Regions from separate parts of the Homo sapiens genome. Here region 2 is linked to region 1. The links come from fine-mapping of genetic effects on gene expression. Tissue or cell type: monocytes. Region 1 holds a variant in brackets; the other region holds the start of a gene. All regions are shown on one strand. Distances are from middle to middle.

What was found.
Region 2: it holds the start of LINC01624, and the variant in region 1 is fine-mapped to the expression of LINC01624 in monocytes (TOPMed, PIP 0.93).

What each region holds. Positions count from the first base shown.
Region 1 is chr6:170,235,522-170,251,069 of GRCh38, reverse strand. No RefSeq gene overlaps it. Among named protein-coding and RNA genes, the nearest start is that of LINC01624, 29 kb to the left of the region's middle. RefSeq lists enhancers at 5,140-5,905, 5,906-6,671. The variant C/T (reference allele first, on the strand shown) is at 8,288.
Region 2 is chr6:170,264,930-170,280,477 of GRCh38, reverse strand. LINC01624 (long intergenic non-protein coding RNA 1624) reads right to left here and starts at 8,004. Exons shown (of 2, transcript NR_104177.1): 1 at 5,048-8,004; 2 at 1,009-1,269. It overlaps LOC285804 (a long non-coding RNA gene), which reads left to right and starts at 3,716. Exons shown (of 3, transcript NR_126021.1): 1 at 3,716-3,793; 2 at 4,890-5,147; 3 at 12,193-13,809. RefSeq lists enhancers at 12,705-13,281, 13,282-13,858.

The sequences.
Region 1 (15,548 bases):
GTTGGCCCGTGTTTGGATGAGGTGGCCACACGAGGGAAGCCACGAATCCCGTCAGTGAACGCCCGTGTCCTTTTTTCTTTTCCCTTTCGCCGTAGACTTTCCAGCCTATCAATCAATCAGCTGATGAAGTGTCAGGATGGCTCCTTGCTTCGTCCTGAATGGCTGTTGTCACAGGGAGAAGCTTTGAGTTTTTCTAATTTAAAAACAGCATGCACAGAAATGAATGCACAGGGTCTCATGGCGGCTGAGGTCTTCTCCAGTGGGCTCCGTGACTCTCCTCTGGGTTCCGGAGAGGCACTGTGCCTCGGTGTCTCCATTTCAACCTGGGTTTCATAAACCCTTTCCTTTTCCCCCTTGAAACGCCCGGCGGATAGATTAGGTCATTTATACAGGCAGCACAAAGCGTAGTAAAAGAGCTGACTCACAGGCCTGTGTCGCCCCCCGTGAGCCCTGCAGCTGCTCCCAGAGCCTTTGGATGCCCCAAACCGTGTGTGTGGGTATTTTTTTTTTTTTTTTTGGTAAAATGTGCCTAGCAGGAACTGTTAACATGTTAAGTAAATAAAAATATTTTTAAAAGATACATTTTCACAGCTCTTAAGAAAGTTTAAAGTGCTCCATTCGCGGTGCTGCATTCAGGCCAGGGCATGACTGAATTTTCAGGTCTGATGTGGTCTTGACTTGAGAGAAAGTCGCGTCTGCGTCTGCGTCTGTGTCTGCTCCGCAGGTGCTGCTGCAGCTTCTGGGAGGTGCAAAGGGACTAGACATTTCTTCCTGGAGTCTTGAGGTGTCCAGGCCCAGAGGCAGGAGGGTGGACATGCGGGGGTTAGGGTTCCGTGCAGCACATGGGTGATGTTGCTTCTCTGGGTCCTCCCGGAGACACGCTGCTGCTACAGGGGTGGCTTCACAGCGAGGGGCTCTGGGAAAGGCAGGCTAACAAGGCCACCCCTCAGGAGAGCTGTTAGGGCCACTCCTCAAAATAACAGGCACCGAGCAAAGCAGACACCATTTGGTGTCTGGTTCCAATGGGAAGGGCAGCGGCCGCGGCCAGTGTCTTTCCAGGCCGGCATCACAGCGAGATCCTGCCCAGGCCGTGGGACACGCACGCGTCCACACCCTCCAACCACAGTCCTGCAACTTTCCAGGAACACACACAAAGCGTCCCCCACAGATGTGCGGACTTTCCCATGGGTTCTGTAAGATGTGATGTCATGGCCTCAGCCTCAGTTTCCTCACTAGTCCTCTGATCATATCCAGAATGAAATCACCCCCAATTTTAAGGTCAAATTCTATCTTTCAGGTGAGAAACAAAGCTTGCGTTAAAGGTCGAGATTTGATTGTAGGTACTGGGTTTTTAATCTTGGGTTTGGTCTGTGTTTCCTGCGGCCCGAGCATGGGTCAGTGTGTGTCTCTGAGCTGGGGAGGGTAGACTTTGTTCCCTCCCAGGCCTTGCTCCTGGGTGTTGAATGCCCAGTGCGCAGTGAGAAGGGGGTTTGAGGCCCATGCACGGGGCAGGTGTGGATTTTGCTCCAACCTCACTTCAGCACGACAAAGGGAGCAGCAGAGGGGCTGTGAAATCCATCCTGTATCTATGTGGGGCCTGTGCCCAGCCCAGCCTGTGGCTCCCGCTCTGCCCACAGCCCTGGGTCGCACCCCACAGCTGGCGGGGGGATGCCTGTCCCGTTTCCACATCTCACTCACCTGCCATGTTCACGGGCACCGGCCCAACCTTGGGGCTGCTGGTGGCCAGGACGGGATGGATGGGATATGACAAAACCCTCAGTCATCACAGACCCCTCTTAGACCCTCACAGCACTGCTGCCCCACCCCCGGGGAGTTGAAGGAAAGGGAGAAGAACGTGTGTGTAGTTAAAGATGAGGGGAGCTGCGGGGTGGGGGACAGCGTGGGAGCCGCATGTGCTGCTGTGAAGGTGTCAGGAAGGCTGCCAGAGAGCCGGACCCCAGAGGGAGTGAGACCCCCTAGGGCTGCAGGCCAGACCCCTCTCCGGCAAGGCCTGGGGGCCGGGGTGGGGCTGGGTCTCCACACCGAGGGGCAGCCGCTGGAGGGGAAGGCAGGCAGCCGGACCCCCCCCACTCCGCGGGACTCTCCGTCCTGGGCTGAGCTTCGTCCTGGGCTGGCTTTCCTCTAGTGCGACTATGAATGAAACTTCATTCCTCCATTTCCGCTGGGACAGCTGTGCTGCTGGTCCCTGAGCATGCACCAATATTCACAGGAAAAATCAACTTTTCCAACTCACTCTTTAATGTTGTTTTAGGCTAAAGTGCTCTAACAAGGGACCTGCAGCCGCCTTCTTCTACAACGTCTCACTGCATCTCCATAGTCTCCATATTCTCTGGGGACAGCCTCGCTGAAATGAGGTGGCTTCTCTGGATGTCCGTTCCCGCACGGTGTGGGTCGGGCTGCAGAGGAGGGTGGCCGGAGACCAGGCTGCAGCTGCCTCGGAGGCTGCCATCCGACCATGCGGGCACACCCTGCTCTCCCTGTCGCGTCGCTCTGAGAGCTGATGGTGGGGTATGGCTGGGGAACCTTGCGGCCCACTGGAGGGGGTTTAATTGCCGGCTTCCACATCATGCTCTTAGTTGTTACTGAGTGAGTGAGACGGCTCCAGTTTCTGCTCCCACAGGGCTCAGCATTAGGAGAGGCGACGCTCACTGGGAAACGTCTCCAAGTGCGTTTCTGTGGTGTGAGATGCAGCCGCTCATACCGGCCAGCGCTCCCCGCTCTGCGTTGCAGTAACTTTGAGCCACAGACGCTGGTGAACAGCTTTTCCTCTGCATGGGAATCCAGCCCTTCCCACACACAGCCCCGTGTTGTAAAGACCCTGGCTGTCTGCAGCAGGCCAGTGCCAGGCACAGCTGTGAGCCTTCAGGGAGCCCTCCGGAAACCCTGGCTGGACCTCTGGCCCCGCGGGCCGCACACAGACCGTTGTTGGAAGGCCTCGACTTGACTTCATCTTGGTTTCCTTCTGGTGTACACCGTCATCTCGTTTTTCTTCTCGGTGTACACCGTCATCTCAGTTTTCTTCTCTGCATATACCGGCATCTTGGTTTTCACCGGCATTGGGGCCAGATGCCCCTTCATCTCCCTGTCTCATTATTCATTCACTTGTTCACTCTGTAAACGTGTGACGAAGGTGTGGACAGGAGTGGGCTTGGCTCTAGGGGCCCAGTGATGGGTCAGGAGGTCTGGCATCCTGGTCCTTTGTCCTTGCCTTTGATATTTCTGCCCTAAGGCTGTACGATGATTTACAGTTTAGAAAAGACCACCCCATTATATTCTGTGGAAACTTCCCAGCCCCTGGGAGCTGAGCTGGGTGGATGGCGCCCATGTGAGGCAGTGCCTCGGGAAGAGCTCATGGTGCCTCCTGGGTCTGCTGCTGCCCTTGCCCTCCTGCCTCTGCTGCTGCCCTTGCCCTCCTGCCTCTGCAAGCTCGTCTCCTGCGTGGCGTCATTCTCTCCTGTCCAGGAGCCTGGTACACCCGGCGGAGGGGCCCATGGGCCGCAGCTGCCCAGTGCATGGGAAGGAGCAGCCGCCGGGCCCCTGGGTCCCCTTCATGACCCCACCTCGGTGGATGCTGGTGGCAACTGAGGAAAAGTGTTCTGAGTGTGTGAGGAGAGGTGCTGAGACTGATGTCATCAATCACACACGGAGAGCAGAGCCGTGTCGGAGCCGGGGTGAAGTCATTCCAGCTTTGTTATCCTGGGGTTCCGGCGAGCGCCGCGTGGGCAGAGCCCGTGTTTATGCTCAGGGAGGCGGCATCGCCCTGAACAGTGTCTTTTCTGTGGCTCAGGTCTGCCCTGAAAGCTGTTCCTTTTACACTCCTTCCTGTTCGTCAGGTTTTACCTCAGTGTGGAAAGAGTGACAAACAGAAAGAACAGGGGCCATAAGCACAGTTGCTGGGGGTGGCGAGGGCTGGAGCTGGGGGCGGCTGCAGGGGCGGTGAGGGCTGGAGCTGGGGGCGGCTGCAGGGGCCTGGAGGGCTGGAGCTGGGGGCGGCTGCAGGGGCGGTGAGTGCCGGTGCTGGGGGGCGGCTGCAGGGGCGGTGAGGGCCGGAGCTGGGGGCGGCTGCAGGGGCGGTGAGGGCCGGTGCTGGGGGCGGCTGCAGGGGCGGTGAGGGCCGGTGCTGGGGGCGGCTGCAGGGGCGGTGAGGGCCGGTGCTGGGGGGCGGCTGCAGGGGCGGTGAGGGCCGGTGCTGGGGGGCGGCTGCAGGGGCGGTGAGTGCGGGTGCTGGGGGCGGCTGCAGGGGCGGTGAGGGCCGGAGCTGGGGGGCGGCTGCAGGGGCGGTGAGGGCTGGAGCTGGGGGCGGCTGCAGGGGCGGTGAGGGCCGGTGCTGGGGGGCGGCTGCAGGGGCGGTGAGGGCCGGTGCTGGGGGCGGCTGCAGGGGCGGTGAGGGCCGGAGCTGGGGGCGGCTGCAGGGGCGGTGAGGGCTGGAGCTGGGGGGCGGCTGCAGGGGCGGTGAGGGCTGGAGCTGGGGGCGGCTGCAGGGGCGGTGAGGGCCGGTGCTGGGGGGCGGCTGCAGGGGCGGTGAGGGCCGGTGCTGGGGGCGGCTGCAGGGGCGGTGAGGGCCGGAGCTGGGGGCGGCTGCAGGGGCGGTGAGGGCCGGTGCTGGGGGGCGGCTGCAGGGGCGGTGAGGGCCGGAGCTGGGGGCGGCTGCAGGGGCGGTGAGGGCCGGTGCTGGGGGCGGCTGCAGGGGCGGTGAGGGCTGGAGCTGGGGGCGGCTGCAGGGGCGGTGAGGGCCGGTGCTGGGGGCGGCTGCAGGGGCGGTGAGGGCCGGTGCTGGGGGCGGCTGCAGGGGCGGTGAGGGCCGGTGCTGGGGGCGGCTGCAGGGGCGGTGAGGGCCGGTGCTGGGGGCGGCTGCAGGACGGAGACACAGCAGCCTGCAGAAGGGCGCCAGCACTCACCTTCGTGTTCCGCATGGCCAGGAAGTTCTGATTAAGACTGGATGCAGTGTAATGAATGACATGATAATGGATGATCACAGAAGCTGGTTTGTGAGGCAAACAACCACACTTATAAAATTTGGTTTCCCACGGTTCTCGCCCAGGGAGGGGAGCCCACGCCTGCCATGTAAACATCTCCCTTTCACCCCCGTGGGCACCCAGCAGCCGGGCATCAGGGCTCCAGGCAGGCGCTGCTTGCATCCGCTTGGGTGTGAGGTCCCAGGGCTTCCCAGGGCTTCACAGCGGGGGCCATTTGCAGGAACCACTCTTGGAGAACAGCCGTGTGATGTTCCGACCAGGAGGACTGCACAGCCAGGGCCATGGGAAGGGGTTCACGTTTCAGCCATGTGGGAAAATCCCAGGCCCTCAGGTTGCATTTGCAGGCTTGGCGTGAGAGCCCTCGCGACGGCTGCTCACCCTCGCTCTCCCACCCCGTGGTGCAATCTGACCTTGGTGCTCTCCCCCGGCCTCTCCTGGATTTATTCCTCATCCACGTTTTGTGACAGCAAAGCCTTTGAGGAGAAGGCCTGGGGCCGACGTGGGTTCCGTCCCAGCTCTCCCAGGAGCTGGTGCTGTCTAGGGTCAGGTGCGGGACGTCGCTAGCTGCATCTCTCATCCATAAAGTGAGGAGACCCGATCACCTGCGAGGGCCTGGCAGGAGGAGAAAACAAGCTCCTCGTGTGTCTCTGCCAGGTGCACAGTTGGCCTTCAGTCAACGTCCCCTGCTCAGCAAGTTGCTGATTATTTACAAATTTAGAATATCCAGAATTCCTGAATATTCAATATGGCATTACTCATCAGCACTGAAATTTCTAACTGAAGAAAGTCTTTTCCTGCTCCGAACTTACTTTAAAAGTCTGGTTGTACTCAAATATCATCTGCAAAGTGGTCGTGTGGCCTGGAGACCTTGCAGTCGACAGACAAAGCGGCCACAGACAGGGAGCTGAGGTCATCTGGGGCGGCCACAAGCCTCTCTCGCGGGGCCCTGTGTCCTGCGGGGACAGCGAACCACAGCGCTCCCTCAGCTCAGCCACCTAGGACCAGCCACAGTGGGGGGCCCGTGAGGAGGATGGTGCAGCTGTGGGGCCATCCTGACACCTGGCCATTCGTAGGAAGGCCGTTTGCTCTCAGGAAGTGATTAGGGGAGATCCCCGGGGCCTCCCTGAGCTCTCGGGAGTGTTTTGGGGACACAGAGCCGAGTTGCCAAGGGCGGCCCTGCTGTTGACAGGCTGCTGTCCTTCTACGTCTGGGCCTCAGAGCATCTTCCAGGGGAACTGCAGTTCTGTGTGCAGGCGCTGCCTCAGTAAGTTTCCCGCCTCGGAAAGGTCCCCGCAGCAGCTCTGGATGTTTGGGCGTTTGACCAAGGGTGAGGCCCAGGGACAGCTTGGGACACTGCGTGCATGCACAGCCAGGCTGCACCCCATTAGCAGAAGGTGTTTAACACTCGACACATAAATAATAGCGTTCACACACACATCTTATCACAATGCTTAATAGCCTTATCAAGAATCAGGAGAAAACAATGCATCCTTTTATAGCATTTTAAGTTAAAGAAACAAAAACAGTGAGAGAGGAGAAAGCTGCCCTGCCAAGAACCGTTCCTGTCTCCCTGGCCCTCAGCACTATTTATGACAGTACCCGCGGGTCGTCGCAGTTATTATTATTGTTGTAAATGCTCCTAGAAGTGGGCCGTCCCTCCCCAGCAGACAGACCTCCCTCTCAGCCGGCCTCTCCTGTTGAGCTTAATTGAATGTCCCGATGCATAGGAGGAGGGTTAATGGCATAACTCAGTCACACAATATCTTGGATTACAGACAGCCAGCAAGCAAAGGCCCGGCAGCATGGCAACGGGGCCGGCACCGTGGGAACAGGCGGGCGGACAATGATGGGATTGACAGTGTGCATGGAAAGGCCACCTTTGGGAGAAACCGTATCTCCCAGCATGCTGGGGAAAGTGAGAAATAGTGGCAGATGCTGCTGGACTGCAGCAACAGATGCTTCTGGCCGGGCCCCGCCAGCCAACCAGATCACACGTCGCTAAGTAGGGAGCACTGCTCCCCGCCCCCGCTCTTTGTCGGAGGGAGGCAGCAAATACAAATATTGCAGAGGAATTAGAAACAGCAGATGGTGGCAGCAGGGCTGGATGAGGTCAGGGTTAGGCACAGGCACATTTGGTGGTGGCATTAATCACCCCTTCCTCTGGGAGTGGAGAGCTCAGGCCTCCAGCACAGCCCGGAGCTGACCACCTCCCTGCGCTTCACTCCGCCCCTCCCCGACGCCTGCCCCGCTGCCTGCCCCCCTCTCGAAGGAGGCTGAGCCCACAGATCAGCTTTTAGATGTCTCATCCAATTTAGCAGAGTTTAAAAGAACATATGTTGAATATTTTGTTAATTCAATTTGTGTTTAAATAATTGATGTTGGCCAGTTCCAAATGTGAGATTCTAAAGGGCTCATATGCTGGTTTGATGCATTATCTATCATCCTATTGTGCGAGGTCAGTTGTTTTCATTACAAGACAAATACTCACTCTCTCTTTATTATGAGCTCAGGCGGCACCCAGTTTAGAGTGTCTGTAATCAGGAGTGTTCAGAAAGAAGTTCTTGTAAATCGCAGACTCCTCAGTGGAAGGTCAGCGGGCAGAGGAGAGACCTGATTCCCCGTGACCTCTGGGGATGGAAATTCCACTCTGGAGACTTTCTCGGGAGGACGTTCTGGTTTCACTGAAAGGAGTATGACTCTGTGAGGAGGGAGAATGTGATTTGGTGTGTGCTTGCATGTGGCGGGACTGGCGTCTGCCGTCCATATATGTGAGTGTGTCTTTGTGTTCCTGTGTGCTGACTGGAGGTGCTGTGTGTGTGTGTGTGTGTGTGTGTGTAGGTGTAGACATCCCTTAATAGCTTACCTTATGAAAAATAAAACCTGTGGGGTCGGGTGCGGTGGCTCACGCCTGTAATCCCAGCACTTTAGGAGGCCGAGGCGGGCAGATCACTAGGTCAGGAGATGGAGACCATCCTGGCTAACACGGTGAAACCCTGTCTCTACTAAAAATACAAAAATTAGCCAGGCATGGTGGTGGGCACCTGTATTCCCAGCTACTGGGCAGGCCGAGGCAGAAGAATGGCATGAACCCGGGAGGCAGAGGTTGCAGTGAGCCGAGATTGCGCCATTGCACTCCAGCCTGGGTGATAGAGCAAGACTCTGTCTCAAAAAAAAAAAAAGAGAGAGAGAGAGAAAGAAAACTTGTGTTCTAAATGCTTTCAGAAATGAATCCAAAGATTCTTTAAGGGTTATCACATTTACGGCCAACACGATAGTAGGATTTCTTACAA[C/T]GTTTATGTTTTAATACCTTAAGCCACACCTGCGTCTTTTCCAAGGCTCAGAGATGGCTTCCTGACCGCACAGAGGAGTGTCTTGGGGCAGACCTGTGGGCTGTGAGGGGCTTTGCCTGTCGAGCCCTCTGTAGGCCTGGATCCTGCCTCAGGCACCCTGTACTCAAAGCGTCTCTGTTGGGGCCGTTACGGTCTGCGATGGTATAGCAAGGGGCAAGTGTGAAGAATTCCAAGTCTTTGACCTTAAATAAAATGTTTCTCTCCTTGAGGTAGAAAGAAATCTAGATGTGATTTTTATGCTTATGAACACAATTTGTTCCAATTCAAAAGTAATTGCTGCTCATTCTAGAAAATCTAGAGAAGAAAGAAGTAGAAAAATAAAATCATTTGTGTCTCGCCAGCATAGGCAGCACTGGCCATGTGGTATTCCTTCCTTTCCCACGTGTAATGTCCGCTGTCTGTGTTTAGAGTTAGGGTCACTGGTATTTCTTTTTTTCTTTTCTTTTTTTTTTTTTGAGACAGAGTTTTGCTCTTTTTGCCCAGGCTGGAGTGCAGTGGCGCGATCTCGGCTCACTGCAACCTCCGCCTCCCGGGTTCAAGCGATTCTCCTGCCTCAGCCTCCCAAGTAGCTGGGATTACAGGCACCTGCCACCATGCCCGGCTAATTTTTTTATTTATTTTTATTTTTATTTTTAGTAGAGACGGAGTTTCACCATGTTGGCCAGGATGGTCTCGACCTCCTGACCTCGTGATCTGCCCACCTCGGCCTCCCAAAGTGCTGGGGTTACAGGCGTGAGCCACCGCGCCCGGCCTGAGACCGGTATTTCTTCCTCCCTTTCCCATGCGTAACGTCCACTGTCTGTGTTTAGAGTTAGGGTCACAGCTTCACTTTAAACCTTGATTCGTTTGCTTCACATTATTATGTGTGCATGTCTCTGCCTTTGTCTTGTCTATATAATAGTCCACTGACTTGATATATTCTCTTATTTAACATTTTCTTCTTTTTAATACTTATTTGAACATTTGAAATGGTAAAAGTCTTTGCTTTCACAGACAATTCTGGGATAAACTTGCTTTAAAGATATTTTCTTTTTCTAGAGCTAAAAAAACTTATTTGGGCTAACTTTTCAGGAGTAGAATAATGGGACACATGTAGAAACAGGAAACAAGGCCAGGCACGGTGGCTCATGCCTGTAATCCCAGCACTTTCGGAGGCTGAGGCAGGTGGACTGCCTGAGCTCAGGAGTTCAAGACCAACCTTGGCAACACAGTGAAACCCCATCTCTACAAAAAACAAAAAAACTTACCTGGGCGTGACGGCACACACCTGTAATCCCAGCTACTTGGGAGGCTGAGGCAGGAGGATTGCTTGAAGGCAGAGGTTGCAGTGAGCCAAAATATCACTGCACTCCAGCCTGGGCAACAGAGCCAGACTCCATCTAAAAAAAAAAAAAAAAGAAATATGAAACAAAATAATTTCCCTTTCTTTCAGTTCATAAAGAGACATTGTAGCTAGCTGAAAGAAAGAAGAAAGAAAAAACTAACAGAGCCACTGTTAATATGTAATGTGTATCCTTAAAGTTTTCCTCCCTTTGCTTATATTACATACATCTTTCTCAAAACTGGGGTCCTTCAGTTTTGTAAGCAGCTTTCCTTTAATTGTGAGAAAAACCCACATAGCATTAAACTCACTCTCCTCAAAATTCCCATGCGCGTGGTGTGATACTGCCAGCCGCACACTCATTGCCGTGCAATGGAACTAGTTCTTTAACTACGATGTTGTGAGCATCTTCCTGTGTCATTAAATATTCTTTAAAACATGATTTTATCATGTCTAGAAAGTGTTTAATCATACAGATATTCTAAAATTTACTTAACCCCCTTTCATTGATCATGATTGTTGCATCTATTTATTACTCCTATTAAATAAAGCTGCGATGAATATGCTCGTATAAAAATGGTTCCATAAACTTCTAATTATTTCTTTAAGATCAATTTTGGGAAACAGAATTACTGGTTAAAATGCACAAACCTTTGAAAGGTTCTCAGTTATACGCTACATTGTCCTCCCAATATCTGAACGTGTGTGTGTAGTTTATGACAGTTTCTTGTGTCCTTGCTAACTCTAAATACAGATACTAAATATTATGGAATATTTATAAATGTATTTATTATAATATTTATCACATTAATAATATAGATACTAAAAAGTTTGCAAATTTGGTACCATGTACAATTTTAATTACTTGTGAATCTAACCTATAAAAATATGTTCATGGTTCACTTGCATTTCTTCTTGGTGAACTGCTTATTCTAGAACCCACTTCAGATGCTTCATACTTAGGGACGAGCTACTTCCTGAAAGCGTGGCCCCATTTTACTCTTACATGGGATCTGCGGTGGATTTGGGAAAACCAGGTTGACTTTGCCTGCGTCCCTGTGTCCCTGAGTTCAGGTAGAATTGTGCTGTTTTAACTGGGTCTGGAATCCTTCGGTCTCTTGGAAACCACAGGGCCCTTTCCCCACGGACAACAGGTTGAGTGGTGTTTTCTCTCCTCTCTGTGTATTACAGGACATGGGGGTCTGCTGGAGAGTTCTTAGGAAGGAGCTACCACTCCCCAGGCCCCTCAGCCCTTCCTAATTCTTCTGGGGCTGGAGTATCCTACTGATCAGTAGTTCAGTCATTCCAAACTAAGGTCTGGTGGGGGACCTGAGTTCTGGGTTTGGGGGACTCCACTTATGTCAAGCTCAGCAAGCATGCAGGGAACAAGGATGCTGCTTTTTGAAGAGATGTGTGTCACCCACCCCACTGACACCCGTGTGGGCTCAAGCCTGGGCACTCTTGCCATGGTTTCTGGGACAAGGCAGCAGGCAGTGATGGCCACTGGAGGCGTGGAAGCTGGAGGCGTGGCCCCTGGAGATGTGGTATTCCCAGTAGGAGGTCTCCGTGTGGGCTTTGTTGGTTTTGTGAGACTTTTAAAACTGGGCAAAATGGTGGGTGTTGGTGAGTTTTTCTAGGTAAATGGTCAGTTTCTTTCACTGGCTTGTCAAAGGAGTCCGTGGCTCTGAGACAGAGAAGTCAGAGACATTTGAGGTGGAGGCTAGCCAGCAACCAACCTAATTGCAGATGGTGGTTTGAAATTTCTTCTACGCATAATTGTTAGTGTCTACAGGATGTTCTATTGGTACAGATTCTAAGTTTATTTAACTAGCCCCCTTTTGTTGGGCATTTATGTTCTAGCTATATTTTGTTATAAATATATATTTTTATGACTGAGTTCTTGTTCTGATGCCTAGCATTTTGCAGCCTTGGTTCCTTCTGATGTCTAACAGGAGTCTTTGCAGTTGAGCCCATTGTTTATACTTCAGAGGCCTGGGAGCAGTGGCCAGTGCACGCCCCCAACACTCACTCCCAGTTTAGTTTTCAAGGCCACTCTGGGCGTCGAGGCTGATAAAACCACACAGCCATACTCACAGGCTCTCTAGAAAACACGTTTCAAGCCTCCCAAACCATTGATATTTTAGCTTAGAAGAAAGCGATGCTCTGAACTGATCACGCCGTATTAGTGGCGCTGCACCTGCCTTTCTTGTTCCTGGGGGAGTCTGGCCCCCGACATCCCTTGGAACGGTGTGCCACACAGAAGTTGACAAGGAGCTTCTCTCTTCCACTGTGGGCTGGTGCAGGCATCACCGTGAAGCAGGGGGAAGAGTCACGAGGGGCTCTGCTGGAGTCCCCCAGACATCGGGCTTTTCGCTCCATTGCTGTTGGTGGAGAGGGTCCTGTGAGCCAGGCACTGGGTCAGCCCCGGGACTCAGATAGCACGGCCTCACCCCAGGGAGAGGCTGGGGCAGAGACATGCACAATCCCCCGCAAGGATTTGGCTTTTCCAAGTGCCAAGAGGGTCAGGCTCGTGGTCACTAGAAGCTGTACTTGGGCCCTGAACCCAGTCTGACAAGGGCTGTGGCCATAGAGCACTTCCCTTGAGAAAGGAGCATTTGAGCAGACACCCGGAGAACCCACTGTGGCTGACCAGGCGGGGCCGAGGAGCAAGACCTTCCTCGGGAGAGGGGCCAGCATGTACAGAGACCCCAAGGCACCTGGCAGCCGGGGCCTGGTGTGCTGTCCATGGGTCTCTCCTGTTTGCGATGGCCGAAAAGCCACAGTCCCCCAACCTGCCTCCGGGCAGCATAGTGCTCCCTTGAGGAGGGACCCCGGGCTGACTGCATCTCCATGGAGCACGGCAGTTGCAGTCCCTTTTTGCAGCTGCTCCTGACTGAGGACTTGAGACCCTGGGATGTGGGTGTCAGGACCCTTCTGGAGCCTGGGGGCTGTTTTGTTTTTAAGAACACACAAGCGAGTTCCTGACTCCTGCCCTGAGCTCCAGCCCTGTACGAGCCCCTCCATGTGCAAATCGGCTCTGGGGCTCCAGCCTGCCCTCCTGGGCCCTTTCCATCACCCTGCACAGGCCCTTTCTGAGGAAGCTGTGGAGTTGCTGGGCTGCATTTCTCCCTGGACAGGCTCCGCCAGGAGTTACTTCTTCTGTGAGCCTCATTGGACCAGGTGCTCCTTTGCCCAGCCCAGCACCGGGCTCCTGCCCTTCTGGAAGCCTGGAGGCTGGGAGGATGGCACAGAGCACATGTGGGATCCAGTGAGAGGCACAGAGCACATGTGGGATCCAGTGACACCGTCCTTCGCAGTGAGGGAGATGCAGTCGTTTAAGAGCACAGGTGGGATCCAGCGACACTGTCCTTTGCAGTGAGGGAGACGCAGTCGTTTAACACGTGGGATCAAGCGACACTGTCCTTTGCAGTGAGGGAGACACAGTCGTTTAACACGTGGGATCCAGCGACACTGTCCTTTGCAGTGAGGGAGACGCAGTCGTTTAACACGTGGGATCCGGCGACACTGTCCTTTGCAGTGAGGGAGACGCAGTCGTTTAACACGTGGGATCAAGCGACACTGTCCTTTGCAGTGAGGGAGACGCAGTCGTTTAACACGTGGGATCAAGCGACACTGTCCTTTGCAGTGAGGGAGACGCAGTCGTTTAACACGTGGGATCAAGCGACATTGTCCTTTGCAGTGAGGGAGACGCAGTCGTTTAACACGTGGGATCCAGCGACACTGTCCTTTGCAGTGAGGGAGACACAGTTGTTTAACACGTGGGATCCGGCGACACTGTCCTTTGCAGTGAGGGAGACGCAGTTGTTTAACACGTGGGATCAAGCGACACTGTCCTTCGCAGTGAGGGAGACGCAGTCGTTTAACACGTGGGATCAAGCGACACTGTCCTTTGCAGTGAGGGAGACGCAGTCGTTTAACACGTGGGATCCAGCGACACTGTCCTTTGCAGTGAGGGAGACGCAGTCGTTTAACACGTGGGATCCGGCGACACTGTCCTTTGCAGTGAGGGAGACGCAGTCGTTTAACACGTGGGATCAAGCGACACTGTCCTTTGCAGTGAGGGAGACGCAGTCGTTTAACACGTGGGATCAAGCGACACTGTCCTTTGCAGTGAGGGAGACGCAGTCGTTTAACACGTGGGATCAAGCGACATTGTCCTTTGCAGTGAGGGAGACGCAGTCGTTTAACACGTGGGATCCGGCGACACTGTCCTTTGCAGTGAGGGAGACGCAGTTGTTTAACACGTGGGATCCGGCGACACTGTCCTTTGCAGTGAGGGAGACGCAGTCGTTTAACACGTGGGATCAAGCGACACTGTCCTTCGCAGTGAGGGAGACGCAGTCGTTTAACACGTGGGATCAAGCGACACTGTCCTTCGCAGTGAGGGAGACGCAGTCGTTTAACACGTGGGATCAAGCGACATTGTCCTTCGCAGTGAGGGAGACGCAGTCGTTTAACACGTGGGATCAAGCGACACTGTCCTTCGCAGTGAGGGAGACGCAGTCGTTTAACACGTGGGATCAAGCGACACTGTCCTTTGCAGTGAGGGAGACGCAGTCGTTTAACACGTGGGATCCAGCGACACTGTCCTTTGCAGTGAGGGAGACGCAGTCGTTTAACACGTGGGATCCAGCGACATTGTCCTTTGCAGTGAGGGAGACTCAGTCGTTTAAACGGAAACTCCCCCATGTTCACCACATCTTGCTTCCAAAGCACAGGTTCTGTGTTGAGACAGTGTTTACTCTGCAGGGAGGGGTGAATTTCTAAGGCATACAAGCTAGTTTCAGATGCTGGCCAGCTCTGCTGTTCCTGCTCAGTTGATATCTGAAAGCCACTTTCCAAATCTTCGTTCCTCTTACTTTTGGATTTGTTGTGTGTTTTCCATGTACCGTGTTGAGTAGATGGGAAAGGAGTGTGTGCACATATTTGGATCAGCAGCTCTGCACCCAGGAAGAGTGTGGGGTGCAGGCTTTCCTGTGGCCTCGAGAATCTTTGGGACGCCGGGGTCTTTGGGGGATGTGGTATTTGAGCGATGGAGCTTCTCGACACCGTGCTGGGCCTGACTGTGTCTCCCCAGCTGTCCTGGTGGCCAGTGCTTATGCTGGGCGCCCTGGGCGGCTGCTCCAACCTCTTCTGTCTTGGTTGATTTTTGGGTGAAGTAAAAAGGAACTGAAGGGTTTTCTTTCCGTCGACTCCGGCTAATGACACGTCACCTGCTCCCTTGGCTGTGGGGGAGTGGTGCAGGGGGGTTAGAGGAGGAAGGGGCCTGATCTGCTGTGTCTGCCCAGGGTCCTGGATGCTGGAGGGTGGTGGCAGGAGACAGGGAGGGGGGCAGGCTTCAGAGGGGAATGTGGAATTCAGTTTCTGGAGGAGGAACCCCCCAGCGGCCCTCCCCTGGCTCTCCATTCACAGCCACAGCCCCCCAGCCTTCCTGAGCTGGCCCTGCAGGCGCCAGGTTCCTGGTGCGGCTCTGAGTTCAGTTTATCTGGAAAGTGAGTGGCTGACCTCCGACCTGGGCCTCCATCTGGGGAGCGTGGTCACGTGGAGATGCTCTGGGGGGAAGAGTCGCTTCCCAGATGTGATTTAAGGATCATCGTGAGAAACTAACGGTGGCAAAGTGACCATTTTTCTGCGGTTGTAAACTGACAAATGGAAAACAGTCAACCATTGATTATCTATGTAAATCGTCAGGTTTTATTTCTCTGCATGCAATAGGAAGTTTCTTTGTTTTACTTTTCCCCATCAAGGAGCCAATTAAATCAGACTTCCCTGTGCAGGCAGGTCCAGCTGTCAGGGACTTGTTCCGTCAGCCCCTGTCATCTATGAATGGGAAATTAATCAGCGCCATTAGGGAGAAAA
Region 2 (15,548 bases), 29 kb before region 1:
CTGGCGCCAGCGAACGGCTTCCGGCTGCTCTTAGCGTGGAGTTCAAAATCCTTGACTTGGCCTCTCAGGTCATGCACCATCCGGCTCCCGCCTGTCTTGGAGCCTCGTTTCGTTATTCTCCCACGGGTCTGTTACCGCTCGGCTCCAGCCAGCGCCCTGGCAGCCTGGTTCTCCATCCGCCCCCACTCTGCGACTTTGAGTGGGATCTTCCATCTGTCTGGTGACTTCCAGTGTGACCTTCTTCCGCCACGAAAATGACCCGCCTGGGTTACCTGCCGCACGTGATGGTGCTCTTGCAGTTTGCCCTGTGGCATGATTAATTCGTGTAGCTGTTTGTTTAGTGGGCGTGTGTCCCAGGAGACTGCAACCTCAAAGAGGGCGGGCTGTGTTGGCCCTGGTTCACCACTGCAACCCAATCCCCACTTGAGGCTGAAGCAAGAAAACGTTCTCTATCCATGTGAGCTATAATTTGAGAACACACAGACACACACTCAGGACATTTCATCATGAAAGAAGCTTCATTCTCGTGTTCACTCTTACCAATGTCACTAGGAGTTTCGAACCATAACATGAAGCCAAACACAGGGATTATCTGAGCGGATGAACATAGTATTCTGTTTTTATTCTAATAACTGGCTGCCTAGATACAGCCCTGTATATGGTAAGAGTGCGTCTACTTGGTATCCAGCAAACAAAGTGTTATGCATTAGTAATTCCTCAGTCCATGCATTTTACAGAAAAGGCAGAGGGAAGGTAAATCGTTTCCTGAGGAACAGCTGAATGTCTAGAAACGTCAAGATGAAGAGTAGAATTTTGCATGCAAGGACACGCGCCATGAGCACCAGGCCTCACACGCAGGAGGCACACAGTACGTCTGTGTTGAATGTAGTATCTTCCACTACAAGGATAAGGAAACAAAAAGTACTTAGAAACTTTACACATTTGTCATTTGGAAACAATTCAGAGATAAGTTTTTAAGATGATATGTATTAGTGCAGAGTACTAGAATTTTTCCGGAACAACTTTCATTACATTTATTTGCTCAAACAAGTGACTATTTCCATTTTGGAGAAGCCCAACTGAGCTAAATCACTTTGCCACTGAGGAGGGCTGGGGAGGTGGCAGGGGTGCCATCAAGGTGTCGTCTGGCTAACACACATTCTTTCTATTTTTCTTGTTTCTTATGGAAACATTCATGGCTCCACGCCTGGCATTTGCTGAATCCATCTTCTAGAGATTACGATTTTAATAGAATCCGGAGTGAGGTACCTGAGGAAGGCAGAATGAAGCAGCATTTTAAAATGTATTGCAACATGAGCATCAGAACCTTTTGTTTTTTTTAAAGCACAGAAAAGAAAAATGACAAGACTCATGTCATTAATTACGTTCTCAAAGAAAATAAGGTCAGTGTAAGAGGAAATCATCTAAAATTGCAGGACAGGGCATTCTCGTTGGATCGAGGCATGAAGAAAACTTCAAGGCTGTCAGTGGTTTATCGAGGAAGTGGTAGAATCTTCCTCGGATACGATTTTTAGAAGACAAGCCAACCTTCCATGGCAAGAGGTGCAGACGTGTGCCTCAGCTGCCAAGGGCCTCCCAGGCTGTTTCCTGTGCACCAACTTCCTCTGCTTCCTCGGTGTCTAAACCCATGGTCAAAGCACCATTCACGAAAAGCATGTTACTGTTTTAAGTTAATTTGAACTTTAAAATTATTGAACCATAAGGAAAAATATCTCTGCTTTGTGGTCCTGGATATTTTACAAGAACCTTGATTCCTTTAGTGAATCTTAATTCACAGCTCAGTGCTGGGATATTCAACAAATAAAATCACTTTTCAGAGACAGGATCAGAATCTGCTACTTCCTGCTCCTCAGCCTGCCTTGCCAAACCCCCAAGTGGCACCCTGGTGTAGACATTATGGACCTCAACAGCAGTACTTTAGCCTGATGCCTAGAACCTCTTACACTTTTATGGAAGTGGCCTAAGAGTGTTTGTGACGGGATTCGTGGTGTCTCCAACTTTCTCTCTTGCGCTGTCCCACCCTGACCTGTGGGGGGAGAGAGGAAGGAAGGAAGAAGGGGGGAAGGGCGTCTGGTGTCAGACGCTTACAATAGGAATTGCTCACCTGCAGAAGGGCAAGTATTGTTTCTTCTAGAATTAGTATGAATTGGATTTTGTGAATTTCAGCTCTTTCTTAGAAGCTTAGAAAAAAATTTGGTATAAACATTTGAAATAAAAAAATGCAATAAGCAACAGAGTTAGATCTTGTCTCTACAAAAAAATTTTAAAAGAATTAGCTGAGTGTGCTGGTGGCACCTGTGGTCCCAACTACTCAGGAGGCTGAGGCAGGAGGACGGCTTGAGCCCAGGAGGCCGAGGCTTCAGTGAGCTGTGATTGCGCCACTGCACTCCAGCCTGGGGGACAGAGCAAGACTTCATCTTAAAAAAAAAAAAAAAAGCAATATTAAAAAGGTGTATTGAAAAGGGAAAAACACTCTAAATTTGAGAGTTTTAGTTAAAATGAAAAAGCAACAGTTAGGACCATTTCTGATCCTCAAAGTCAATACTTTTGAAACAGGAGAGGGAAGGGAGGTGGGGGAGCCCTGGAGCTGCTCCCAACGAGTGGGGCAGGGGCCTCAGACGCAGGCTCTAGAGCCCAGGCTGGACCTGGCAGAGGACAGTTCAGTGTCTCTGTAGTCAAACAGGTGTCAGAAATATCATGAAACCCCCAGTTTATTCGTCATGATTACACTCTAGCCCTGACTGGGTTTTTTGCTCATTTTTTGCTCAGTAGCTTAAAGTTAATGTTGAAAATGTCAAAGAGGCCTGCAGATACCCCTAGAGAGACAGCAGTTTGTTAAAGGGGATAAAGGGGAAGTGTTTATGTTTATAGCACAGAAAGTCAAGCTGTTAGAGAAACTGGACAATGGTGTAAATGTGAAATGTCACATTTGCCACCACAAATGGTGGCAGGAAGGTGAGGAAGAGAAAGAAATAAAAATACTTGAGATGAGGCCCGAAATGGAAAATGGAATTAATCATCCCATTGCTCTAAATGCTCTAAGTGCGCTAAAAGCATTTCTTTTTTTCTTTTTTTGAGACGGAGTCTCGCTCTGTCGCCCAGGCTGGAGTGCAGGGGCGCGATCTCGACTCACTGCAAGCTCCGCGTCCCGGGTTCACGCCATTCTCCTGCCTCAGCCTCCCGAGCAGCTGGGACCACAGGCGCCCGCCACCACACCCCGCTAATTTTTTGTATTTTTAGTAGAGACTGGGTTTCACCGTGTTAGCCAGGATGGTCTCGGCCTCCCAAAGTGCTGCGATTGCAGGCGTGAAACACCGCGCCCGGCCAAGCCCTTCTCATCTTAACGTCCTCTTTCAGCAGAAGGAACTTATCCTGGTCCTAACTGTTGAGGTCACTGCTGACTCTGCCCCCGGCTCCAACGGTACAAAGTCACCTCCAATTTAAAGATGCTACAGAGGACCCCGTCCGCACGTGAGCTCCCCGGAGTGATGGAGGGGAAAGGGCTGCCTTCCCATTGCCGTGCGTGGAGAGCAGCAGAGACTGTGTTTGGACTCCTGCCACGGAAAAGGCTGCGTTGGCCGTGTCTCCAGGGAGGACAAACTAATTTTAACAAACTGACCCAAACAGGACTCGGAAGGTCAGTATGTTGCAATCTCCGGTCCTCCTGCCTGCTTCGTGGTTCGTTCCAAAAGCTAAGTATGCTGTTTCAATTTGATCTGCTATTTCGGGTGATCTAGTCCCTGTTAGTTCTTGACAGTCCAGGAGGCGCCTGGTGGGTGGAGAATCTTCCCCTTTCTCCTCCACAAACCTGACCCTTGTGGAGAAGGCAGCCTGGAATCCCCTGGGTTCTGAATGTCTCCGCCTTTTCTCCAGCGCAAGCGCTGGGCCTGAGCACAGTCTCCGCACAGAGGCCTGCGGTGTCGCGGGGGTGGTGAGCCCTGGCTCGTCCCTGAGGCTGAAATCTGGCTTTTGGGCTGGGGGTTCTGCCTCTCACTGCCTTTGGCCACAGCTCTCTCCTCCACCCTGAAAGGCCCTCGGAGTGGAGTTGGGAATACAGTAGTGACAACGCGGGCTCCAGGGAAAACGTGCTTGTGATGTGGTGCCCACGAGCTTGTTTTCCAGACTTGGCTCTACTGAGCAGCCCTGGAAGTTGAATCTTCACGTTGTCCAATGAGACATAAAGACTGGAAAGAGTCTTTCCATCTCTGACATACCCAGCACCGAGCTTCCCTCTTTTTTTTTCGAGACAGGGTCTTACTCCTTTTGCTCAGGCTGGGGTGCAGTGGCACAATCTCAGCTCACTGCAGCCTTGAACTCCTAGACTCAAGGGATCCTCCCACCTCAACCTCCTGAGTAGCTGAAACCACAGGAATGTGCCACCACCATGCCCAGCTAATTTTTGTATTTTTTGGAGAGATGGGGTTTTGCCATGTTGCCCAGGCTAGTCTCAAACTCCTGGGCTCAAGTGAGCCTCCCATCTTGACCACCCAAAGACTGAGCTTATAGTTGAGAGCCACTGTGCTGGCCCAGGCTTCCCTCATTTATAAGGTGGGGCCAGGTGTCTTATGGCAGACTGGATAAATATCCATGTCATTTACTGTGTGTGTGTCTGTGTGTGTGTATGGTGGGGGTAGTAAGTTTGAAGGTAGGGGCTGTACTGTTTCTCCCTTTTCATCTTTTTTTCCTTTCTACTCCCTCTTGAAGAACATGAGAATTTGGGTAACAAAATGCCTCTTCATTACAGGGATACTTTGATGTTAAAACCCTAGGGTGAAATGAAATGGACTTAACAAATGCCTGCCTGCCTATCTTTTTTGTGGGGTCTAACTTGTACCTGCTTATTCTTTGGAAACCTCTATTTCTTTTAGGTGCATCCCACGGACTCATTTAAATGTTCCCTGAGTGCTTCGTCTGTGCCGCACGTTGCTCTGCGTGGTGGAGATAAATGAGGAGTAGAAGCTGCGCCTGGCCTGAAGGCACCCCAGGTCACTCTTGGGGAAACACAGTGCCCATCGCTGATGCTCACCAAGGTTCCGGTCCTGCGGACAAGCCCCTGCCATGCACCTGATCGTGGATCTGGCCTCTGTGACCGGCTCTGGAAGTTCCCATGAATGGACTCTTCCTCGGCATGCTTCCGGGTGGCATCCGTTCTTTCCCCGCGTATTGCTTAGGGGTTCTATGAGAATTTCTCTGAGGGAGCCCTGGGGTGAGGAGGCCGCAGGGACCCAGCTTTCAAGCGGCAAAGGCCAGCGGCTTCTCCGCACAGCCTGTCCCTGCGTCCTCAGGCTGACGCAGTTTCTGTAAAGGGTCACCCTGACGGATGCTAACAGCGGCTTCTCCGCACAGCCTGTCCCTGCGTCCTCAGGCTGACGCAGTTTCTGTAAAGGGTCACCCTGGCAGATGCTAACAGCGGCTTCTCCCGCGCAGCCTTTCCCTGCGTCCTCAGGCTGACGCAGGTTCTGCAAAGGGTCACCCTGACGGATGCTAACACTTTTTATTGGCTTCCTCTCCTCCCTGCCTTCCCTTCCTGTGCCCACATCTGTCTCTGGGGCTGGCAGGACGTCAGGCTGCTCCTCCGTCTGGTTAAAGCTGGGCCCAGTTGCTGGATGTGGGGCTCTGCTGGGAAGCTTGGAGACAGGGTGGGGACCGCAGGGAGGCAGCTCCCTTCTGGTTTGCCAGAGGGACCAGGAAGCAGCACCCACAACCCCTGCCTACCCCATGGCTTATTTGTCTGATTAACTCGTCATCATCTGCTGAAACCTAGAACGGGGTCTTAGGGTGATTGATTGCTTAGGAACAGGCAGGGGAGGGGGCTCAGGGCACCAAGGGGCTGCAGGACTTGAGTCAGGGTCAGGCTGTGGGATGGGTAGAATAAGCGGAATTATACAATCCTGGACCACTGGTAATACCAAGGACCTGTGTGTACCTGCTCCCCACCCCACACACCTTCCTTGGTGTTGTGGTAGAAATAGAAGCAGAACTACGAAGTTTCTTCCTTCAGTACAAGCCACAGCGGTTCTGGATACAATTTCTAACCCACCCCTCCTTGCACGGCACTGCCTTTCCTTCCTGCCTGATCCCTGGGCCCAAAACCCTCGTGACTTTTTTAAGTCATATATACACCGGTTCAGAAAGACGTCTGGCTGAAAGAAGAGAGTTATGCCCTGATTCATTTTCACCTTAATTCAATTTAAATCAAAGCAATCGTGAGCTGCTGTTCTCCATGGCGACGGCTCATCGTAGCTGTGGAACTCCACACACCTCACCTGGGGCAGCTGGTGCTCAGAAGGCAGATGGGAGGTCAGGTGCCCCTCGGAAGCCACAGCTGGCCACCCCTCGGAATGCTTGCTCCTAATTCTGCATCCTCTGCTTATTTAAGAGAACAATGTTACAAACCCATGCTGAGACATCCACCTTTTCCCCCGTGGATCTTAGGGTGTGGGGCCACTCCAGGGCTTACTGCTGCGGTGGCAAACCCTGGAAGACAGTGGGATCTCACTGAGACAGGCCCTCTGCGCCCCCACCTTGGCTCCGGAAGATGCCTTTGTACTTGTGCTTGCCTCCCACTTGCACGAGGTTCTGAGCCCTTCTCTCCATCAAACCAAAGTGGTAGCATGCAGCTGGGCTGTTGGCAGCAGTGCTCAGTGATGGGAGAGCTTAGGGAACATTCGCTGAAAGAGAGAGATGAATGAAGATTCTTGAACGTGGAAGGCTGTGATTTTGTCAGACAAGAACACCATGTGGGAAATTAGGGCCCAGAAGACTTGTTCCCAGTTGGACCAGGCTTATTCGACAGTCACCCAGGACCTGGTCGCCTCTTCTTGTGGGTTGAGAAGATCTTGCCTCTCAAAGGGAGTAAAACTGAAGCACCCTCCTCACTGGAATACCAGGTGAGAAAGGCCAGTGAGACAGATGCCAGGGCCCTGGCAAGGCGGGTGCGAGGCCCCCCCCCCAGTTCAGGAGGAGCCAAAGGAAGCGCGTTGGGCTGGGGCCTGGTGTCCGTCGCCCATCGGGGGCTTGCACAGCGCTGCGGCTCGGCGGCGGGAACCTCGGTGCCGTTCACTCCTTGCGGTGGGGGAACGGAGCCCTCGTTCCACAGGCCCTCGGCCTTCCCCACTGGTGAACTCGAGCTGAGCTGTGGGGGCAGAGGGGGCAGCAGCCCCTCCGTGGAAGCTCAGCATCCACAGGGCACCTGCAGCAAGGGAGGCAGAGCTGGGCAATATCCACGCAGCGTGAAGGCATTTAGCAATCAGTCGGAAACTAAACTCAATACGATGCCTCAGAAGACTGGTGATTCGCCCCGATTAGACGGACCAGTCCTTACAAATTGCCTTTTCATGTTGTGCTGTAAATAACCAACGTATGTAATAACATTATCATACCCCAGATAGAAGATTCCAGGGGGAGAGACTCAAAGCTGCAGGTTGACAGTTGCCCAGAGCCCGAGGGGAGGTGACCAGTTTTGCTCCCAGCTGTCACTGGGCTGGTCCCTCCCTGCGCACGGAAGACGAGAGGAGGCGAAGCTGCGGGAGCACCTCCTGAGAAGGCGCCACATGGCTCCCGTGGCTTCTCCGGCCCCAGCTCACCTCTAACCCAACCCTGTGCGGCCAGGGCAGGGGCGTCCTCTCCCCCCGCAGCCCCGAGGGTCCCTGTCGCTGGCCGGGCACCAGAGAGGCTTTGTGATCGTCCCCAGCCAGCGTTCCCTCCCTGGGCCATGAACTCTCTGAAGAAAAGGGTGGTCTGCTTCCCTCTGTCCCTCTGAGGCGGTTCCTGAGGCAGTAGGTCCCAGTGATCATGGAAGGTGGAAGGAGAAGCGTGGGAAATGAGGATGTGGGGTTAGCAGGAAGCGACGGCGCCCATGCCACTGCCCGAGGGCCTCGCAGCTGCTTGTGAGGGGCTGTGTCCACCAGCAGCGAGGGTGTGCTGGGCCCAAGGTCACCAGCTCCAAACAGTTGCAGGTGCGTCTCAGCCAGGTTCTTCCCTCCAGCATCAAGGCACCTGGGGTCCTGGCTCCTAGGTCTTGTGGAATTTGCCTACAGCACGAACAGCCTTCTGGAGACCTCCACACAAAGAACCCGACAGCCCCCCTGTCCTCCAGCTGGCTACGTTCTACGCATCAGGAAACCAAGGCACACAGACATCACCTTGGGCCACACGGCTGGTGCAGGGGGAGGTGGCCGTGAGACCACGCGCTTCAGATTCCACAGAGCCGCCGCGGCCGATGGAGCTTCCTCGCGGTGACCCCCGGGCCCTACTTCCCCTGGGGCTGGAGCCCACACAGCCGTCTCCTCTCTACGCTGCGTAGGCAAACCTGTCTTCTCCACAGGAAACCCAGCTGCCTCTAGAAATTAACCACATTCTAGAAAGTGGGTTTGACTCCTGCATACACTTTTACTTTCTCATTTGGGTCTCCGGAGGAAATGAAAATCCACGATTAGCACAGGAGACGCACGTGACCCGTGTGGCTTGCACCATTTGTCGTTTTCCCACACATCAGCGCCAACCGGGCATGCGTGGTCCTCACCCACAGGGACTTGCTCGCTCTGGGTTACTTCTGGACAAAAAAGTCTCTGCAGCCGCCCTTTCAGTGTCTGCACGCCTCATCCTCCCTCCTCCCCAGCCCGTAGCCCGGGCCCAGGGCCTGCGGCCGCTTCGTGCTCCCAAGCTGTGTCTCACGGGGGCACCCACCCTACCGTGCCAAGCAACCTGCTGATGGGCAGAGGGAAGGAGCCCCTTCTTGGCCTCCAGAGCCCAACAAGAACCAGCTCCTGGTAACAGTGGGGTGAAGCCAGTGACGTGGGTTGATAGGAAGCCATTCCATTTAGGAGATCATTTGAACATGATGTGGATCAATGGTGTGGAATACAGAAGAAAGGCCCCCGGGCACGGCCTCCCCAACCTCCCGACCCCAGAGCCAACAGCACGTTGTGGATTAAGCCCCAGGCCCTGAGATGTGGATTAGCCTGGATTCCCCAGGGGAGCCCAGTGGAAGAACAGGGTCTGTACAGGGGACAGAGGGAGGAATTCGGCAGCGGCAGGGGTGGGTCAGCGAGGCTGGAGATGCAGTGTGGCTCAGAGACAGGGAAGGGGCCAGGAGCCCAGGAATGTGTGGCCTCTGGAAACGGGAAGAGACATGAAGAGGTTCTCTCGGAGTCTCCGGAAGGAGCCAGGCTGGCCAAGCCTTGGTTTTTTACCCCAGTGGGACCCTTGTCAGGCTCCTGACCTGCAGAACCGTGAGGGGATGAATGTGTGTCTTGTAAGCCTCTCAGCTTGTGATGGCAGCGAGAGCTCCCCAGGAGGGGCTGCGAGCCGATGAAGAGGGAGGGTGCATGGTGGCCTCCGCCTGCCCCCTGGCCATCTGCAGTGGTGCCCCCGTGTGCTCATTAGAGCTTGATGCCCTTGTGCCTTGAAGACTTAGTCCAGACATTCTATGAAAGTGAAGAAGGTGGCCGGGCGTGGTGGCTCACGCCTGTAATCCCAGCACTTTGGGAGGCCGAGGTGGGTAGATCACTTGAGGTCAGGAGTTTGAGACCAGCCTGGTCAACATGGTGAAACACTGTTTCTACTAAAAATACAAAAATTAGCTGGGTGTGGTGGTGTGTGCCTGTAGTCCCAGCTACTCGGGAGACTGAGGCAGGAGAATTGCTTGAACCCGGGAGGCAGAGGTTGCAGTGAGCTGAGATCATGCCACTGTACTCCAGCCTGGGTGACAGAGTGAGACTCCATTTCAAAAATAATAATAATAATAAAATAAAATAAAAATAGCCAGGCATGGTGGTGTGCACCTGTAATCCCAGCTACTCGGGAGGCTGAGGCAGGAGAATTGCTTGAACCTGGGAGGCAGAGGTTGCAGTGAGCTGAGATTGTGCCACTGCATTCCAACCTGAGTGACAGGGTGAGACTGTCTCAAAAAAACAAAAACAAACAAAAAAAACAAAGTGAAAATGGCATGGGCAAATGATGCCACACGTCCCCTGGCCCCACACTGCCATCTGTGCGAAGAAGGGAGCAGGACGCTTCAGTGGGCACTGGGAGGGAGGCGGCACGTCACCGCGGTCCATGCCCTGAGCGGTTTCAGGGTGCGGAGCTCTGTGCACGGATACACCTCTCAGGCCCCTTTGTCTCAGCCAACAGTTGAGTGCAGTCAACTGTGTAATCGAGAACCCAGAGTATTTCTCTAGGAAAACTGCTCAGTTCTTTCCAAAATGCCACGAGAACTTCAATGATGGGAACGGGGAACAGGTGCTGGGAGCAGCTGCCACCGATTCACGGCTCTTCTTCTTTTAAATACATTTTCTGTGGGGAAACCAAGGGCTTTCACAAGCATTTTGCTCTGAAATATTCAAGGAATGTTTCTTGTTTTTTCTTATTACAGCAACAGTTTTAGTATTTATAAGCTGAGTCAAGAGGCCTGCCACAGAACTAGGGAAGTAGCAAGTTAGAGGGATAAAAAAAATCTCAATTACTAACCCCTGCAGTTGCTTTGAAATAGCATTTGGTTGTCTACTGGCAGCTTTCTGAGATGAATTCTTGACTCCTTTACAAACCTAGGCTAAAACAGGCGCTCAGAGACTGTGTGTAAACTGTCAAATGTCACCCTCAGGCGTTGGGGGTGGGCGAGCACCCGCCCTGGTGACCTGACTCCGAGGGTTTCATGGGCTTCTGCCCCATTTCCTGATCCGCTGTCACGCAGCATTCCCGGCATGGCTGGGGGAGGGCCCTGTCTTCTGGGAGCCCCAGAGTCCCTGGGCTGGGCCACGCTCCCTCCGCAGGTGTTTATGGTGTGTCTTTGTGCTGGGCCTGGGCTCGGTGAGCAGAGTCAACATGATTCTCGGGAGAGCGTTTATGGTCCGTGAGACAGATGTGAGGTGTGTGCATTCCCCACACAAGAGACAAAGTGAGGCCCCGGTGTTTGCCAAACTGGGATCGCTAGTAGCAGCAGGCTCTGTGGCGCCCACAACAGCTCTTAGACTTGGAACGACCGGAACACTAAGGGCTTCGTACTTGATTCTCATTTGTGTTTTGTGCCTCCTGAAAAGCTGGGTCCAAGTCAAGTCAGCTAGTTCCTGAGGTGGAGGATTACAGATGTCCCCACTTTCTCCATACATATGAGCAGGTACAGGGTCCCCACCCCGCGTCACACATGCTTCTGTGGGGAAGGCTGTAGGCTTTTCTCCCTCACAGGCATTTGTAGTAACGGGTGCTATTTGCTCACAATGTGTTGAATCTGTGGGAATGAAAGCTGCTTAGGGCCATACCGTTAAATGGTGGCAACAGATATTTTTAGATTAAAAAAGAATGTCACCTAAGAAACAAGAGCACACTTACCTCTGATGTCCCCAAGGCATTAGGTAGAATCCCGTTGTCCACACTGACTGGGTTTTAGGGAGGGATTTCGTGGCCTGCCTTTTTCGTAGAAAGTGGCCCCAGCCAGTGTGACCTGGTCTCTGAGCCTTGTCGTCACAACCACCTGCTGAGTTCCCAGGCTTCCTGGTGGGCACTTTTCCTGCCATTTATCAGGTCAAAGTAAAGTGGGAATTGTCCAGTGACTGCCAGTAGCCAGCTCTCAGGCTGCTAGTAGACTCACGCTTTGGGGGCCGACTTCTCTGGATAGCTGCTCACATTTCCTGCCTCAGTCAGCCCACTCCGCCCAGCATTTGCCCCACAGGCCGAGGGCCCTGGCACCCCAGATGTCACCCTTCCTCCCGGGAGGGCTGCAGGCAACGGGTGAGGTGCGGGCTCACACCTAGGAGACAGTGACCCATCCTCCCACGGGGCTTCCTTAGCGGGTGGTGAGGTTGTTGAGTTCTGAATCCATTCAGTGACAAGGACTGATGGTCACCGTGGGGCAGTGGGGGCTGTTCCGGGTATGGGGTGCCCCTTTACCTCGGGTGTGGCTGCTCTATCTTAGGAGTAGCGGGCACTTTCCTCCTCCTTGTACACCGAGTGAGTTCCCGGGGGCTGCCATGGCAAATTACCTCCTCTATGCAACTGAAATTCGTTTTCTCACAGTCCTAGAGATCAGAATTCCTGGATGCAGGTGTGGGCGGGGCTGGCTCCTCTGTGGCTGTCAGGGAGACTCCAGGCCTCTCCCAGCTTTGAGTGCTGTGAGATCCTGGTGCCCTTGTCTTGTGGGTGCATCACCTTGATCTCTGCCTCCCTCTTCCACAGCCTTCTTGCCCTGCCTCTGTGTCTCGTGTCCTTATAAGAACACCAGTCACTGGATTCCAGGCTGACCCTCATCCAGCTCAACCTCATCTCCACTCTCAACTATCTGCAGAGACCTGTTTCCACACAAGCTCACATCACGAGGCTCTGGGGGGACGTGGATTTTGGAGGAACACCTCTCAGCCCACTACAGAGCCTTTTACTACCATCAATCAAATGAATTTTTCAAAGGCACGTCTGTTATACATTTTTTTTTCAGTGAGCTTTTTCTGAGAACTTTTTGGGTTCAAAGCACCCAGATGGTATAAATGACGTGGAAAATGGCCCTCCCAAAAAGATGCCATGAGGGAGCTGCACATGGGGCTGGGGGGAGTCGGAGACAGCACGTGTGAGCGGACGTGTGGCCGGCACCCAAACCAGACGCCATGTGATTACAGATCCTGCAGGGAATTACAGGAGGCAACTCAACGTAGGAGATTGGTGTCATACTAACAGAAAACCAAGACTGAAGAGACAGGAACGACTGTCCGGGTTTCCCAGACAGGACCGTCCCAGGAAGCAGACAACACAGGCCTGCGTGCGGCCCTGGCCTTGAGTGTGCTGGACGCAGGGGACCGTCCCAGGAAGCGGACAACACAGCCCTGCGTGCGGCCCTGGCCGTGAGTGTGCTGGACGCAGGGGACCGTCCCAGGAAGCGGACAACACAGCCCTGCGTGCGGCCCTGGCCGTGAGTGTGCTGGACGCAGGGGACCGTCCCAGGAAGCGGACAACACAGGCCTGCGTGCGGCCCTGGCCGTGAGTGTGCTGGACGCAGGGGACCGTCCCAGGAAGCGGACAACACAGGCCTGCGTGCGGCCCTGGCCGTGAGTGTGCTGGACGCAGGGGACCGTCCCAGGAAGCGGACAACACAGGCCTGCGTGCGGCCCTGGCCGTGAGTGTGCTGGACGCAGGGGACCGTCCCAGGAAGCGGACAACACAGGCCTGTGTGCGGCCCTGGCCGTGAGTGTGCTGGACGCAGGGGACCGTCCCAGGAAGCGGACAACACAGGCCTGCGTGTGGCCCTGGCCGTGAGTGTGCTGGACGCAGGGGACCGTCCCAGGAAGCGGACAACACAGGCCTGCGTGTGGCCCTGGCCGTGAGTGTGCTGGACGCAGGGGACCGTCCCAGGAAGCGGACAACACAGGCCTGTGTGCGGCCCTGGCCGTGAGTGTGCTGGACGCAGGGGACCGTCCCAGGAAGCGGACAACACAGGCCTGCGTGCGGCCCTGGCCGTGAGTGTGCTGGACGCAGGGGACCGTCCCAGGAAGCGGACAACACAGGCCTGCGTGCGGCCCTGGCCGTGAGTGTGCTGGACGCAGGGGACCGTCCCAGGAAGCGGACAACACAGGCCTGCGTGCGGCCCTGGCCGTGAGTGTGCTGGACGCAGGGGACCGTCCCAGGAAGCGGACAACACAGGCCTGCGTGCGGCCCTGGCCGTGAGTGTGCTGGACGCAGGGTACCGTCCCAGGAAGCGGACAACACAGCCCTGCGTGCGGCCCTGCCGTGAGTCTCCACCTTTCTGTCTCTCTGGGCTGTGGCTGGGCAGCACGGAAGGGGGGAATCACCTACCTTTTGGTCCAGAAAAATCCATTCCACAGTTTCCACCTTCCCTCACTGACAAACGGGATTTTAAATCCCTTTATCTGGAGACAAACAGAAAGTGTGTGCTTGTGGCGAATAATTTCAGCTGATATTCTTACCAGCTGTTAAGAAACACATGCAAAAAAAAAAAAAAAAAAGACTGGTGACATCTGGCTGGCATTGATATTTTGTGACAGAGTATCTTTTTCCTGGGGGTGTTTTCCAAGAAACCAGTCTCTGGGTCCCCAATCCCCTCACTGCCTGACTGCTTCAGCCTCCAGCCCCCAACCTTTGACCTCTTTGAAAAACAAAAAAGAAAGTGATCATATTGACCAAAGCAACTGTAACCCAAATTGCGGCCACATAATTGGGCGTGGTGACATTGCATTAGCTCAGATTAAACAATGGCCCAGCAGCTGCTTCCCCACGCCAGGCTTTCGACTTCAACTTCCCCTGAGCCACACAATGGGGCATTTTGCTGAGATGGGAAAGATCAGGAGAGGAGGCCCTGTTCCCTGCCACGGCCAGCTGACCTCCTTCTCCTCTTCTAACTGCTTGTAATCGGAGGGATTGTAAATAATGTCAGATAAACGTACTAACACTGTGAATGTTTTCTCTGAAATGTCCAAGTCTATTTTGCCTCATTTTCCCAAGAACGCTGATGAAATGGGCCAGTTTCAGACGGAAGTTTAGACTGGTTAGACCCCTTCTGGATGAGCCGAGGTGCTCAGATACAGCCCGGCACCAAACAGGGACTTTGCCGTCAACGGCACACCCCACAGGTGGCGGTGGCGCCGTAAGATTGTCATGGAGCTGAAAGCGTCTGGTCCCTCGGCTGTCACCTGGCTGTCACATCACAGCACAACGCATGGCTCCCGCCCCTGTGTGACGCCAGCGTGAACAAGTCCACAGCGCTGCCAGCCGGGCACAAGTCCAGCACACGTGATCGTCCACAGCACACACGACCAGATAATGTTAATAAACTTTGTTCCCGGGTGCGTATTTACTATACCAAACTTTTAGTCATTATTTTAGAGTGCGTTCCTTCTATTTATTAAAAAAAAAAGTTAACTGTAGAGCAGCCTCAGGCAGGTCCTGCGGGAGGCGTCCAGGAGAAACCGTGTTATCACAGGAGACGACAGCTCTGTGCATCACTGCCCCCAGAGACCTTCCAGTGAGACCAGATGTGGAGGGGAAGACGGTGATATTGATGATCTTGACTCCATGCAGGCCTAGGATGATGTGTGTGTCTTAGTTTTTTAACAAAAAAGTTTAAAAAGTTAAAATGTTTTAAACAGAAAAAAGCTAATAGAATAAGGATATAAAGAAAGAAACTATTTTTGTGCAGCTGTACAACATGTTTGTATTTGAAGCTACATATTATAAGAGTCAAAGAGTTAAAAAATTAAAAAGTTTATAAAGCAAGAAGGTTACAGTAAACTAAGGTTGATTTATTATTAGAGAAGGAAATTTTTAACAATGGATTTAGTGTAGCCTAAGTGTGTGGTGTATGTAAAGCCTACAGCAGCACGGTCATGTCCTGGCTTCCCACTCACTCTCCACTCACTCATGGACTCACCGGAGCAGCCTGCGTGTGCAGTGTGTGTAAAGCCTATAGCAGTGTACGGTCATGTCCTGGCCTTCCCACTCACTCCCCACTCACTCACGGACTCACCGGAGCAGCCTGCATGTGCAGTGTGTATAAAGCCTACAGCAGTATACGGTCATGTCCTGGCCTT